2 separate regions of the Homo sapiens genome follow, and region 1 is linked to region 2. A link means that fine-mapping ties the variant in region 2 to the expression of a gene that starts in the linked region. Tissue or cell type: nasal epithelium. Region 2 holds a variant in brackets; the other region holds the start of a gene. All regions are shown on one strand. Distances are between the middles of the regions.

What was found. PIP is the estimated chance that this variant, and not a neighbour inherited with it, causes the effect.
Region 1: PIP starts here. The variant in region 2 is fine-mapped to the expression of PIP in nasal epithelium (TOPMed, PIP 0.98). The same link has a PIP of 0.9 or more in lung.

The regions. Positions count from the first base shown.
Region 1 is chr7:143,128,084-143,136,189 of GRCh38, reverse strand. It overlaps PIP (prolactin induced protein), which reads right to left and starts at 4,113. Exons shown (of 4, transcript NM_002652.3): 1 at 3,979-4,113; 2 at 891-996. The coding sequence starts at 4,073.
Region 2 is chr7:143,037,937-143,046,042 of GRCh38, reverse strand. It overlaps LOC105375544 (a long non-coding RNA gene), which reads left to right and starts at 5,111. Exons shown (of 2, transcript XR_001745395.1): 1 at 5,111-6,651. The variant C/T (reference allele first, on the strand shown) is at 4,538.

The sequences.
Region 1 (8,106 bases), 90 kb before region 2:
TCTGAGATCAATGACTAGGAAAAGGACACACAACCAGTGTCCCAGGGAAGAGTCACTGTGGATTAATAACTGCATAAGTCTATTTGACTTCTGGCCCTTGGCAGCTAGACAGGAGGGATAATGCTCTAATCCCAAGCTGCTCAAAAATGTGATCCTTTGGGCACAGCCTTGGTGTACCTTGGGCGTCTGTTAAAATCCAGAAGTTCTAATCTCTCCCCAGACCTGCTGAATGAAACTCTGAATTTTAACAAGATCCCCGAGTGAGTTTTAGACACATTACCATTTGAAAACCTCTGACCTTGTTCAGAGATTGGACTTCTGAACGTGGGGAAAAGGAGGAGATGATTACGAGCTCCTTGTCAGGGTGGGGAGGCTGGAACAAGAGTCCACTTCTGGTGACCCAGAGCAAAGGAGCAGAAGAAGGCAAGAGGACAGTAGAGTCGCTCAGTGCTTACTGGAGAGGAGGAGTCATATCCTGCATGTCCTCTTCTGCCCACCCACCTCAACCTATGGTGTGGAGTTGCTGCTTTCTCTTCTGAGAACTCCCCTCCCTCCATCCTAAACTAAACATGCTCAGGACCTTGGAAGGACTCTAACTGCTTCTCTACTAGCTCTTACACTTTTTTCTTTTTCCCTCTTTCTCACTTCCTATTCCTTCTTCCTTTCCTTCTTATTTATCCTAGACTTCTCTGGATTCGAACTTCTTCATCTGGAAAATGAGAAGTCATCTGTCCCAAGCTCCCACAGTTGTTCTGAGTCTCAAGTAGCATAACATAAGTGAGAATGTTTCATTAAGTACACTGTACATTATTAAAGTGAGAGATTAAATTATGTTTATAATCAAGGAGTTGAATTATCTTTTGAAGTCACGCCCCCAGTCCTCTACTTACCACCATGCATTCTTTCAATTCTGTTTGAACTGCAAGCACTGCAGTGACTTCGTCATTTGGACGTACTGACTTGGGAATGTCAAAATTCTTTATTATGATCTTCCGACTGATTGTGGGAAGAGAGAATCAGAACACCAGGATCAGAGACCAATCTTTGAGTGAGGGGGGAGCCATGAACAGGGCAAGGGGCACAGGATGGGCAAGGGAGGGAAATTATGGGGCTTGGATCAATTGTTCAGCATTGGAATCCCCTGGAATTTTCATGTGTTGATTGGATTGGTAACTTCACACAGATTTAATTTTGTTTAATAAAACAACTAGGACACTTTAAGATTCCTTAAAGAACTAAAAGTAGAACTACCATTTGATCCAGCAATCCCACTACTGGGTATCTACCCAGAGGAAAAGAAGTCATTATTTAGAAAAGATACTTGCACATGCATGTTTATAGTAGCACAATTCACAATTGCAAAATCATGGAACCAACCCAAATGCCCATCAATGAACGAGCATCTTCTTCCCTTCCATTGACCAAAAACAAGTTTTTAAAAAGAAAAAATGTACAATACCACATGCCACTTCCTGATAACATCCTACAGGCTCTGGTGGTTGTCTACTGAGTAGGAGGGCTCAAGTCATTATTAGGAGAAAATTTTCTAGCAACAGAATCACATTAAACCAGCAAACCTCTTGATCAGGGAAATGCAAATCAAAACCACAATGCGATACCACCTTACTCCTGCAAGAATGGCCGTAATCAAAAAATCATAAAACAGTAGATGTTGGCGTGGATGCAGTGATCAGGGGACACTTCTATACTGCTGACGGGAATGTAAACTGCTACAACCACTATGTAAAACAGTGTGGAGATTCCTTAAAGAACTAAAAATAGAACCACCATTTGATCCAGCAATCCCACTACTGGGTATCTACCCAGAGGAAAAGAAGTCATTATTCAAAAAAGATACTTGCACACACATGTTTATAGCAGCACAATTCACAATTATAAAACTGTGGAACCAACCCAAATGCCCATCAATCAACGAGTGGATAAAGAAACTGTGGTATATATATATATATATATATATATATATATATATATATATATATATATATGATGGAATACTACTACTCAGCCATAATAAGGAATGAATTAACAGCATTTGCAGTGACCTGTATGAGATTGGAGACTATTATTCTAAGTGAAGTAACTCAGTAATGGAAAACCAAACATCGTATGTTCTCACTGATATGTGGGAGCTAAGCTTTGAGGACTCAAAAGCATAAGAATGATACAATGGACTTTGGGGACTTGCGGGGAAGAGTGGGAGAGGGGTGAGGGCTAAAAGACTACAAATATGGTGCAGTGTATACTGCTCGGGTGATGGGTGCACCAAAATCTCATCACCACTAAAGAACTTACTCATGTAACCAAATACCACTTGTACCCCAGTAACTTATGGAAAAATAAAATAAAATAATAAAAAATTTTAAAAACCCAGCAAACATCTCAATGCACTGGAGGTATTTGTAGGAGCATCTTTGAAGATCCTCCTTCTGTGGTCCCCAGGTAGGGTTTAGGAATTTGTATTTATTTAGCTCCTTAGGAAATTTGGACATATGGCCATGTTTGGGAACTTTAGATACTACTCTACATTTAGACCATACACTGCAATCTGAAAAGGAAAGGAAATGGAGACAAATAAAATGGTCAAATGTTCTTCTTCAGTCAATGAGGACTGGGTTCGGGGCCAGGAGAGTTATTTTCTCGTCCCTAGAAACTCCCGGCTACGGACCTTTGTTATTGTGTGGGACAGAAGGGAATTGAGATTCTTAGCCCACAGTGTCTCACAGCCCCATTTTCTTGGGGCAAAGCATCTTAGAGAGATTCTATTTTTTGGTGCCAACTGCTGTAGTGCCCAGTGCACAGGAAAAGGGTATAAATACCTAAGCAACTTCAAAATCTCTCCCATTTGTATATGAGTTTCAGATTGATAGGATGACCAGCTTAGTTCGAGTGACTAACCATCTCAGTTTACCCAGGACTGAGGTCTTTTCCAGAATGGGTTGTGGAGGTGGCGGGGGAGGGCAGAGTTGCAGTGCTACAACCAGGAAAGTTCTGGGCAAATCAGGATGGATGGTTGATAACCTAATTAGCATAGCTTATTTGAATACCTTGCTGCCCTTCAGGGCTAAGTGGACTGTCATCTGGCGGGAATGGGGTGGGATCTGAACCTGTCCCCATGCAGGGTTTCTTGGGACACTTGCCTCCATTACATTAGCTTGTCAAAACCCTGAACAGTTTCCTCCAGGACAGGATATCTGACCATGCCATAGAGAGTACCTCCAAGATCACAACCCAGAAACCCAGCATTATAAACCCTACTGCTATAGAGAAAACTCCCTAGATTGGGTATCGCTGCTTTCTCCCAGACCCTTGGCTCCATTTTCTACTTTATTTTACTTGCTCCAATTTTTCTGCTTCCTTCACACATGTGTTCTCAATAAGTTGACTTCTGAACCTGTGCTCTCAGGTCCCAGTATACGTGAGAGCAAGAGGTCATCATATTCATCTTCAGACTTCAGGTTAGGAAGAATGTCTAAGCTGCCAGTCTAGCTCAATCTCAGACCACAGGGCAGTGGCCAGGGCCTCTGGTCCTTTAGCCAGTCCTGCCAAAGCTGCCCTAAGCTGCCATTGGAATTCACAGACCTGTTATGCTTCTCTTCTAGGAGGCAAGGTGTGAGAAGGTAAAGTTTACTGAGCAGAAATCTGAACAAAGGTATAAATTATGAACAAGATGTGGATCAGCATGTTAGATGAAGACTAACTACTAATTACAGCCTGTAGGTACATTTGGAGCTTTATTTCCACTGGCAATGCAGAAACACCCAGCAAAAATGTGAGAGGAGTTGGTGGGGCTTCCTAAGAGGACAAGAAGTGGAACCTGGCAGGAGATCCATGGGAGCTCCTGGGACTAGAGTTCTGGGAAGTTGAAAGAAATTCTCAGAAAGAGATATGTAATTTCCAGACTGGGAGAGGAGCCCTCCCTGCAATTTTTTTTGTGGGGAGGAGAAGGGCATGGCTCACGTGTTGTCCTGAGCTTTGTTGGCCCCCAACTGCAGGCAGAGAACCAGGAGCAGGGTGGCAGGGCTGGCCCTGAACAGGAGCTGGAGCAAGCGCATGCTGGAGAAAACAGAAGGCAATGTGTCCCAGAGAAGTGGTGTCCCAGGTGCCCAGCACATTTCTTATATACAGATTGATCAAGGAAGTGCAAGAGCTGCCAGGGAGATCCATGAGGTGAATCACCCATTCACCCTCCCCACTCGTGATCTTTCCTTGTTGACCCAAAGTTTGTTTTTCTAAGAAAAAATCAACACTCAGCTAGAATGTCAGCGTTTGAGAGAGGAGTCAGATTGTTCTTCCTTATTTTTTCAGCATCAGAGTTTCTCAAAATGGCTGGGACCTCAAAAGATACACCAGTTTTTCCCGAGTTTACAGATTCAGTTTTCTTTTCCCTCCTAATTTGCCTGTCTGAAGTGCTATGTGTAGTCTTAGCTTCAGTCACTGCTCCCCTGGTCTCTGAAAGCAGAGAACACAGCTGTGGTGGCAGGTTTCAGACCAGAGACATAGAACATCTTTGCTTGATCAAATTATAGTGAGTTCAAGATGCAATGCTATTCAAAACATTTCTTGGAGGGCTAGGATGATCAGGACTTCCCTAGCAGTCACTACCCATCATGAGGTGGAAGAGCTAGAGAAGACCTGAGCTGCTCTACATGATGGGGAAGTGAGTTCAAGACACTGGGTGATGTAAAGATGTTTATTGTCATTGAGTCCTTCTTAATTTCAGGTGTGGTTGCAATATACTGCAGATGTCCAAGATCCCCAGCTGCCCCACAATCCCCAAGGCAGGGTGATATTTTAATTCTAGACAATTCCTATAAATAGCTGGCACCCCCAAATCAGACTTCTTGGCACCAAAGAGCTGGCTTATTTTCTTATTGACATGGCCACTTTCTTACACTTGTCTCATGCGTAAGCCACACAGGAAGAACCACAGTGGAAAGGATTCCTTCTGTGAGAATGGAGCCCACATTATGTCCAGTAGATACCCAGGTTGTAGAATTCCTCTCCTTGGGATGATGGGGAGACTTGCTCTTGCTGACACTGGCATTGTGTTATTTCTCCTTATGAAATTAAATCTGCTCCTTAACCTATGACTTACAATACTATGGGATTTGTTTCTATCATTTGCATGGCACACAGCTGCCCAGGAAGAGCCTCTCTGGCAACAGAGTGAAAATCAGAGTTCTAGGAGTTACCGCCTCTGTATGTTGCTTTAGCCAGGATTCAGAGCTAAAGTGTAAGTGTGTGCTTCTGCTTTCTGGATGTATCTCTCAAAATTGCTCTGTCTGTTTATTCAGCTCCTGGATCTACCTTCTCTTTTCTTTGAATTGGACACCATTCATGTCATTGCTCACTCAGAACTTCAGCTGTTCTCATGATCACATGCTTTCTTCCCTGTTTATGTCCTATCCACTCAAGAACACTGCTTGTGAGGGTCACAATGACCTTCCTTTGTAAGCCTTTTCCCACAATTAAATTGTCTTTACACCTGGTCCTTCTCACTTGCATAATTTCCATTTGAAGCACATCCTAGCTACACTGACCAAGGCAGGCATAAGGCAGAAGAATCTAGGAAGTGTCTGTGTGGGAAAATGCAGGAAAAGTTCTTTGCTTGGCTCTTTGAAGGCATAGCCCTGTCCTTGAGGATGCAACTCCAGCACTCCCAAAAGGCAGTGTCCAGAGGAAGGCAGATGACGATGGGTTAAGAGCATCTATTGAAGGTAATGAGGCTGTTCTTCTGTGAGCTAGCAGGAAACTGCAATACCTACAATGTACAGGACAATCTTTTTTTTTTGAGACAGAATCTCACTCATCCAGGCTGGAGTGCAGTGGCATGATCTCAGCTCACTGCAGCCTCCACCTCCCGGGTTCAGGAAATTCTCATGCCTCAGCCACCCGAGTAGTGGGGATTATAGGCAGGTGCCACCATACCCGGCTAATTTTTGTATTTTTGGTAGAGATGGGGTTTCACCATGTTGGCCAAGCTGATCTTACATTCCTGACCTCAAGTGATCCACCTGCCTCGGCCTCCCAAATTGCTGGGATTACAGGTGTGAGCCACTGTGCCTGGCCTAGGACAAGTCTTATTCAGGCCATGACTGCTGTGATGGTTACTTTTATTTGTTAGCTTAGCTAGGCATGGTGCCCACTTTTTGGAAAAACAACAGTTTAGAAGTTGCTGTGAAGTTGTTGTTTGTTTGTTTGTTTTAAATGTGATTAACATTTAAATCAGTAAAATTTGAGTAAAACAGATTACCTCCATAATATGGGTCAGACTCATTGGATCAGTTGAAAGTCTTAAGAGAAAAGCTTGAGGTCCCTTGAGGAAGAAGATTAGGGAGAAAAAGAAACCATAATTATTATGCCATAAAGAATGAACAAGTCTAGGTTTAAGAAATCAGATAAAGGTTGATAAAATCAGATTGTAAACAACTCAGGAAGCTTACAGAAGAGAATGTGTATAGTCCCATAGGGAAAGAGTTAGAATATAGGTGAGGCTTGCCACAGGCTAAGTTTACAAAGAGAAAGATAATCTTAGTCCTGACAGGGCTCATGAGAAGAAGATAAGGAGTGGACAGAGAGGGAGTTATAGACACCAACACACATGAAGCATATGCTGTGTGCATTACACTGCTCTAAACATTTTAACATATATTAGCTCAATCTTTATTACAACCCTGTGAAGGTGGTTGCCATTTTTATTCCATTTTACAAGAGGAGAAACAGAGACCCAGGAGATAAATATCTAACCCAGACCATATAGCCAGTATATGGCAGAGTCAACTTTGCAAGCAGGTTTTGTGGAATCTGAGTTTTGATTTACAGTATCTGAGAACCTCTTTTTGAAATAGAATCCAAACTTACAAATGTAAACTACAGGTACAGGATCTTGGAGGAGGCACCCATAAGTAGGAAGCCCTGAGGCTTCATGCCATTAACTTAATGGCGAATACACCTTTGGGTGGGGCCAGAATTTCCACGCTGGCAGTCTGGCCCTGGAACATGACCCTTTAACCACTGCACTGCCTACTGGCGAGAACAAGTTGCAAAGTTAGTAACTGGCAGAGTTAGGGGTTCAAAATCAAGTAGTCTGATACCAGAGTTTATGTCCTTAAACACTTGTCTAGTCTATTTATTGATGTAGCAACAGTTTAAAGTTGAGAAAAGGAAACTCACAGAGGTTTTAATAAGTTGTTCAAGTCACAGAGCCAACAAATAACAAAGGTATTGAAGTTTGGCTTGGCCATATGACTAAGCCAAACCATTGGAACCCAGATAGAAGTGAATCCGGAGTTGGCACTTAGAGTGACTACTCTATATTTCCTCTTACTTAATAAAAGCATAATTGGCACAAGACTTGTAGAAGGGCATCTAATGCATACTGAAGATGTAAGATGTAATGAGTTGTTTCTTAGAGGAGGTTATATCCAAGCAAAATCTCTCAGAGGTGAGAGAAGCTGGAGTGTGACTCTTTTCTTAGAAACTCTGTCATCTTTAGTGTCATTTCTTTCTTTCTTCCTTTTTTTTTTTTTTTTTTTTTGGTGGAGTTGCACTCTTGTCACTCAGGCTGGAGTGCAGTGGCGCAATCTCGGCTCACCGCAACCTCCACCTCTTAAGTTCAAGTGATTCTCCTGTCTCAGCCTCCTGAGTAACTGGGATTACAGGTGCCTGCCACCACACCCAGCTAATTATTTTTATTTTTAGTAGAGACGGGGTTTCACCATGTTGTCCAGGCTGGTCTCAAACTCCTGACCTCAGGTGATCCACCCCCCCTTGGCCTCCCAAAGGGCTGGGATTACAGGCGTGAGCCACAATGCCTGGCCTTTAGTGTCATTTCTAAGGTCACCCTGGTGATGTAGGGGCCAAGGGAAAACTTTTTTTCTGCCTTCTGAAGTTTCACTGAGAAATAAACTGACAAAAAGTAGATTAATAGGAGAAATGGCATACAAGTTTATTAACGTGCATGGGAGAGAATGATGACCTCCAACTCCTCAGTGGGAGTACAGAAGCTCATGTACCATCTTGAGGTTACAAAAGAATGAGGTCTTGGAGCATGGCCAAAACCAGGTTATGGTAGTAAATCAGGTT
Region 2 (8,106 bases):
GGCTGGAATCAGACAGAAAATAGTTTTCTTGAGAATTGATGTGGGTCACCTGGAGAATTGAAGAGTCTAGCAAGAGGGCACTTGCCTGGTGGTGGATGGAGATAGGAGCTGAATTAGGGCCCCTGAGTAAAATTGTGTGGCTTGTAGACTGTACAAAGGTGGTGATGGAGAGACTGAAGGGGCACATGGGGGCTGAAGGAGCTGCATCTACCTGATGGAAAGGGGCACCCATTTTATGCACAAAGATGATACACAGTACTTGTGCCAAAATGTCTTGCTTTATCCTCCCAACTGATCCCAGACAGTTTGCTTAGATGTCTAAAACAAATACAAATCATAGGCTTTATTTGATCTACTTGTCAAATAAGATTGTCACAGATGTCACATATGGTCACTTTTGCCATACTTTTATGAGTCCAAGCAACACAAGATTCAAGAGGCAGGGGCATAGAGCCATATCTTTTTTTTTTTTTTTTTTTTGAGACAGAGTCTCACTCTGTCACCAGGCTGGAATGCAGTGGTGTGATCTCAGCTCACTGCAACCTCCGCCTCCCAGGTTCAAGTGATTCTCCTGCCTCAGCCTCCTGAATATCTGGGATTACAGGCATGCACCAACATACCCAGGTAATTTTTGTATTTTTAGTAGAAACAGGGTTTTACCATGTTGGCCGGGATGGTGTCGATCTCCTGACCTCGTGATCCGCCTGCCTCAGCCTCCCAAAGTGCTGGGATTACAGGTGTGAGCCACCGCACCCAGCCAGAGCCATATCTTAATGGGAGGAGTGCCAAAAAATTTGTGGCCCTTTAAAAAACCTGTCATGGATAAGTCAACAAAATTTTCTTTTTCTAAGGCTTAGACTACTCTGTCAGATATCTGATCCTGAATGGAAAGAAAGACACTAACTCACCCCACTCTCTTTTCACTCCCCTTCTCAGAGAACAGGAGGCTGCAGTATCTGAAGTCAAGCTTGTTCTGATACTACACTGTATTTCTTCCTTTTTGTCCATTTATGAGGAAGGCAGACACATTGCCCCACTGGGAGTTTTATATCACCCAAGCTGCAAGCATCTCTGAAACATAAAAACAACAAAATATTACTCTGTCTATCACACATGCACATCGCGAGGCCTCAAAAACATCTTGCTTTACTCCCACAACTGATCCCAGACAGTTTGCTTAGATGTCAAACACAAATACGATTCATAGACCTTATTTGATCTACTTGTCACTAAGCTTAAAAACCACACAGCACAGTCTTGATTTTTGCATATATCGTAATACGTCTCTTAAAATGTGTGATAAATTTTTGTGTAACACATTCTGTTAATGAATGCTTATTTTTCAGTTAACCATTTAGCTCTCAAAAATTAGAGAAAAATTTATTTTAACAAAAAAAGCAAGACTTTTTAAAAAGTTTCTTTATCTGTGAGGTTTTTCTTGGTAAAAGAATCCATGACTCTTGGAAAATTTGGTAAGGGTTATACAACTTATGTTTTTCTTTACATAAATATTCCTACATATCTGAGCTCAAAGCATTAGTAAATGTTTGTGTGATATAAAAACTGATCCTAAAACCTGTTTTCTATTAATATTCTAATTTTTCAGAGTAAGGAAGGGGTGGAGCAAGGCAAATAAATCGTGAATGATATGGGCTGCAATGGTAGACAAATGACAAATAGGGATGTCTCCTGCACCTGGCTGGAATGGCTTTCAATCCTTAATCATATTGACAATAGTGGCTGCATGGTGGCTCATGACTGTAATCCCACCACTTTGGGAGGCTGAAGCAGGAGGATTGCTTGAGCCCAGGAGTTCGAGACCAGCCTGGGCAACATAGTGAGACTCCATTTCTACAAAAAATACAAAAATTAGATGGGTGTGGTGGTGCGTGCTTGTAGCCCCAGCTATTCAGGAGGCTGAAGTGGGAGGATCACTTGGGCCTGGGAGTTCTGCAGTGAGCTATGATTGCACCACTGCACTCCAGCCTGTGTGACAGAGGTAGACCCTGTCTCAAAAGAAAAGAAACAAAACAAACAAACAAAAACATTGATAGTAGCTACTAACACCAGCTACTGCATGGTAGAGTTTGAATTTGAATCAGATCTGATCCCAAAGACTCTGCTCTTAATTTTTATGTCATTTTGTCTCACCAACCTAAACATAATCCAAACTTGTATATCATTACATTGCTTATTGATTTATATTGATTATATAAAAGATATCTTGCTGATTGAATGAGAAGAATATGAGAGACATAGGAGAAAAAAATCACATGTAATGACTACAGATTTATTCTGGAGTTAACCTGTGAGGGAGAATTATTATATTCAGTTTTTAGATAACAATGTAGAATCTCACAGAGCTTAAGTAAATGTCAGTGTTTCTCAGTCATCACATGTTGGGGCCTGAGACCGAAGCTCTGATTTCACCCACTTCACACACTGTCCTTTCCCTCTATATCATGCCAAGAATAGTAATGCTATGACTGTTTCAGATATTCTGTAGCTCAGCAGTGACAGAAACTGTGAAACTGAAATTACTTACATTATTTGATAAGCTAAACCCAAAATTCATGAGGAAGAGAATAAGTAAAACAAACAAACAAACAGAAACCCAGACGTTTATAATGGACAAATAATTGTTCACTCATATTTGTTGTCCTTCCTGGAGGTGACCCTCCCAGTGGGAATATCACATATTTTTGCTCCATTAATTCAGGAGTGGTCGAGTGATTTTCTTCAGCCAGTGAGATATGGGTAGAAGTAATGAGAGTCACTTCATAGCAAGAGCTTTAAGGGTTGGCATTTGAGTCACATTCCCTTTTTCTCCACATCTGAGATCATGGAAGAATGTGTTTAAAGGGAGCTTTCTACTGCTCCAGTCCCTACAGTATAATAATGAGCAGAGTCTACTTCCTGGCTAGTGATGGGCGCATGGCATGAGTGAGAAACAAACATAGTTGTTAAAAGCCGTTGAAAGATTTGAGTTATTGGTGACTTCAGCGTGACCTTGCTGTAGCAGATGTTGTTAGTGTTACATTCTAATCCCTTAAGTTTCCTTTCATCGTTTCTGTGTTAAGCCCTATGTACCTTTGTGGTCAGAGATAAAGAAAGGCCAAGGTTCACAGGAGAGAGCCAGTGTGGATGCGAGAAACACAAAACCAGAGAGGCGAGGTGTTAGAAAAGCAGTAATGGAGAGAAAGTGAGAGACAGAGAGACACAGGAGGCCCAGGAATGCAGACAGAAAGCTAGAAGGAATAAAAGGTAACCCAAGAGAAGCAGCAGAAGTGACAAAGAAAAGCAGAAATTGTGAGCAGAAGGAGGGAGGAAAGGCAGGCAGGACACGGGACTGAGCATGGCCAGAGGCTGAGCACAGAAGCCAGTCTAAAGCACCCCTGTGAGGCTTTCTAGATGCCCCTCTGCTGAGAACTCTCACTCAGCCACATATTTCCAGCTTTCAGCAGCAGCAGCAAAGCCATTCAATTCAGGAAGCAAGGGGAGCCAGAACAGAGAGACAATAAGATCCCTTTGGGGTGACCATCTGCTACATGTTTACAATGGCTGAAGGCAGAAAGGGAATCAAGATATTTAGATTCAAGCTCTGGAATCCAGGCAAGACCCATTGGATGCTGCTGCTCTGACAGTCCCTGAAAGATGTGTGTGGTATGTGGATTGCACTGGACTTCTAGCTCTGCTTCTTAAAATGCTGTGACTATCCTAGTGGACCACCCTTCCCTGACATGACTCACTCTTGTATGGGGGCTGACGGCACAGACCTTGGACCGTCTAGGTTTATATCCTGGCCCTGTGAATTGCCAGTTGTATGACCTTGGGCTGATACTAATCCTCTTGGAGTGGAATTTTCCCCAGATGTAAGATAAAAAATAGTAGAGCTAGCGTGAGCATCAAATTGGATTATGGCTGCCACATAGGAAGAGTTCAATAACAGCAGTTTCCGCTGTTGTTATTGGCATGGAAACTTCATTCTCATCATCTCCCCTTCTAACCCAACCGCCAACCACACTTCTTTAACGTGAAGGTGATGGGTTTGTGTGTGTGCGTGTGTGTGTGTGTGTGTGTGTGTGTGTTGATGCATCTATGTATGGGTCCAGCAGTGTGCTGGCTGCACACTTTAATTATAGTTAACTGAATGAATACCTTTAGAGATCCATAAGTAGTAAATAAAATCAGAAATGAGAGCACACAAATGAAGCCCTGAGAAGACACATGTTAGCTGTCTCTCTGGAACCACAGGTATTTCCTAGAACTGTATCCTGGCCATCAGCAATGACATCTAATCACAGAAGTGGATCTATCTCCCTAAGCAGTAAGCATGCAACCCTCTCACTAATCTTAATGCCAAGTCTAAACTCATCTTGACTAACCGAAACCGAATCCTTATAACTCATTCATTCTCCAGACCCAGCCAATGCATCTTAATTCATAAGTCCAGCATGGCGAGCTTTTCTTATTAGGTCATTTACTTCGGCGGCTTCCTGACTGTGGTACCCAGATTTTGACACGGAGACATAAGCCC[C/T]TTGGGAATGGGGCAAGCAACCCTGGCCCTGCTTTGCAAGTGACTCCACAAGTTAGAATCTGTCAGCAACTTTCATTGAGTCTGTGATGAAGAGACTTACTGTTTCTCCCTATACAGCCCAGGGCAGCAGTATCCATGACTGATGTCAGGCTGGAGATAGCATGGAGGTGGCAGGGAAATCCAATGAGAATGATTCTCTTGCTGTTCTTTGCTCCCAGGGATGATGGTGCTGTTCACCCACTCTGTTTTGAAACCTTTGGGTCTTGCTGATTTTAAGAAATGAGCTGGGCCAAATGGGAAACTTTAGACTCCAGCAGGGTGCTCCTTGTGGGAACAAGGGAAAGCCAGGAGTCCTTTGGGTTGTACAACGCTGATGCTTAAACTAACAATGGGTACAGTCAGACAGCAACAAGAGGCAGATGAGGACTGGGTCCAGCACCTCAGTTGTGTGTGTGTGTGTGTGTGTGTGTGTGTGGTGGGGGGCTTTGGAGTTCGACCTGGGTTTGAAATGTAACATTTACATAGTAGTTGTTGACTAAGCATTCATTAAGTAAATGTAACGCAGATAAAAATCTGGAATTTTATTCAATAAAAAATCCCCAATATTATGGGGATAGTAATGCCTCCCTCATAAGGTTAATTTCAGAATTAAATAAAACATGTTATGTAACACACTAGTACAGGTCGTCTTGGGGTATAGAAGAGCATGGTAGATGTTAGTAAGCTGACAAGAGCAAGCTAAGTTTGTTTAGCAATGCTCTTCTCCAGCCCTTTCCTGCTGTCTGGCCTCACTATCCCAGTGTTACAGGATGGAGGAGAGTCTGAAGCTTCAGGATCCCCAGCTGTGAGGTCCCCTTCCCCCTTTCTCCACTGCTCAGTCCCAAGGGGCTGTGTCTCCCTGGCACTCCAGCAACCATCCCAGACACTGACGTTGTCATAAACTGCACACTTACGCTCATGGATCCTCTTCATCATGTCCAGAGGCACATTTACTTATCATTATTGATAAGGACATGCCACACTCATTGCTGAGGTATTTATTGAGCTTTTACTGTGTTCCAGTATGTAACTTATTCACCTTAAAGCATCTGTCTTTGATTATAAGACTGCTGATCTTCAAAAGCACATTTGTGAGTCTCAGAATCTCAGGGTTGCCAGGATTCTTGAAGGTCACTCCACTCAACCTACTGGTGCTTCATTCCCTGCTGACAACAGCTGACTGCCTCCTGTAGAAGGGTGGTCTAGGAGTTCCCGGTCACTCATGTCAACTCAGCTAGTAAACTGCAGCATGACCTTAACAAGTCACTCGATTTCTGAGTTTCAGGCTTACAATATGTAAAACGAAGTGTTGGAAAACATTATCTTTCCATTGCTGATATTCTTTGGCCCTTATTAATATCATAGTCATTCTAATCTCTTGTTTCTCCACATCCAAATATGGATGCCCTCTGTGTCCCAACCCAGATAGAGGAGGAGGTATTTTTTTTTTGCCATGGCAGGCCTCTAAGTTTGTTTTTTGGGGGCTCTCTCTCTCTTCTCCCTTCCTTGTCACCACCTTCCCTTTGTCCTAGAAATATGTATTACATTCACAGAATATCTGGAAAAACCAAAACCCTGGATCTATACCTTATGCTTCCAAAAAATAATAAATTCCCGATGGCTCAAACAGACTTAAATGTAAAAAGTAAAAAATGGGATTTTTTGGTTTGTTTTTAATTTCCTTGGAGTATGAACATAGGCTTTTCAAAGGAAAACACGGATCCCGGGAGTCTAAAAGACTGTTAAGTGTAACTGCCTAAGGATGAAATATTTATGCAAGATAGAAACAAAACATAAAAACAGAAACATGAAATAAAGATTTGTTTGATTTATGCAAAATGTTCTCTTACAAACCTGTACATTCATTAAAGAAAACTGCAAATGATTTTTTAAACATGAAAAGAACTCAATCTCACTGTAAATTAAAAAAACAAACTTTAATAAGAATTGTTTTTGAATAACTGTTATTTTTTAGACAATGTACTGAAGATACAGCAGTAAACAGAGTGGACATGGTCTCCCCACTATGGAGCATATTTGATGAAGACCGATGTTACCATACGCTATAAAACCAGGTAAACACACACACACACACACACACACACACACACACTTACAAAATAGTGAGTTGTTTTGAGCAAGAAACTACGTGGTTGTCTTAGATCTGGGAGTGATGAGGGAGAAGATGTTTGGACAGACCTGTGATGAGGTCACAACAGAGGCTTAAATCCTACGGGGAGCTCTGAGCTAGGACGGCTTTCCAGAGTTGTCCTGAATTGTGCCCAGAGTTGTCCTGAACAGAAACTTGGGGCCTGGGCATTATACTTCTGCATCCATAGGCCATTGGATGCAGGCTACCTTAGAGGAAGGGCTATAATCTTGGGGAAGGTGTTTCTCTTTGATTGGGAGCAATTTGGGGGTAATTAGCATCTTGGTTCTGAATGGGAGTCCGGGCAGCGCACTGCAGCATTTACTGTAATATCTGGAAAGCCCCTGGCAGGGAACCTGAACATGGATATGTCTGTGAGGTTATGGGAAGCATCTATAGGAGTAATCATTAACTGGTATCTGGTGCTAACTAGGCACAGCATGGTGGGAATCACAATGAGCACTCTGAGAGATGGAGCAGCGTGCCATTACAGGAGCACAAAGGATGTCAGTGTCACTGAGCAGAGGAGTGACACAAGATGACATTAGAGAAAGGTATTTCTAGAAATCATGCAGAGCCTCACAGGTCTCAGGACTTTAACCAAATGGCAGAGAGAAAGGTTTTAATCCGGGGAGAGACCTGATCTAGTCTGTGTTTTAAAGGATCACGCAGGCTGCTATGGGGAGAACAGAGTAGACAGAGGGAAGCGAGGGTAGATGTGAAGGTCAGTTAGGAAGTTTTGTGGCAGGTCAGTAAGGTTTGTTCCTTCTCATTTCCTGTTTTGTGGGTAATGTCTCTGCCACTGGGGTAATAATCCTATCTCTAATAACATACATTATTAATGCAACCCTATATAGTGGATAGGTAATAACCCTATCTGTTCTACTAGTTTGCCAGAATGTCCTTTTCTTTCTCTGGGCCATGATGACTTCTCTTACCTGTGTCCGAGTATACTTATGTGGGAAAGTCAAACATAGACATGGAATGGCCTTGAGCTTAAGGATATTCAGCAAACACTTCTACTCACTTGTAAAATCATTAATCTAGGATAAGTTTATGTACTAGATCTGGTGTGGACTGTAATGGCCCATGATGTTATCTAGAGAGAACTGATTCAGACAAAAATGTTAGCTTTGTGGAGGAGTTCCATCCAAAGAGTCATGAGTGGAGAGTCCTCATGTTGGACTGAGAGGCTCAGGTCACCATTAAGAAGAAAGCTTGAAAACTAGCTCCATGGCTGGGCGCGGTGGCTCACGCCTATAATCCCAGCACTTTGGGAGGCCGAGGCGGGCGGATCACAAGGTCAGGAGATCGAGACCATCTTGGCTAACACGGTGAAACCCCGTCTCTACTAAAAATACAAAAAATTAGCCGGGCGCGG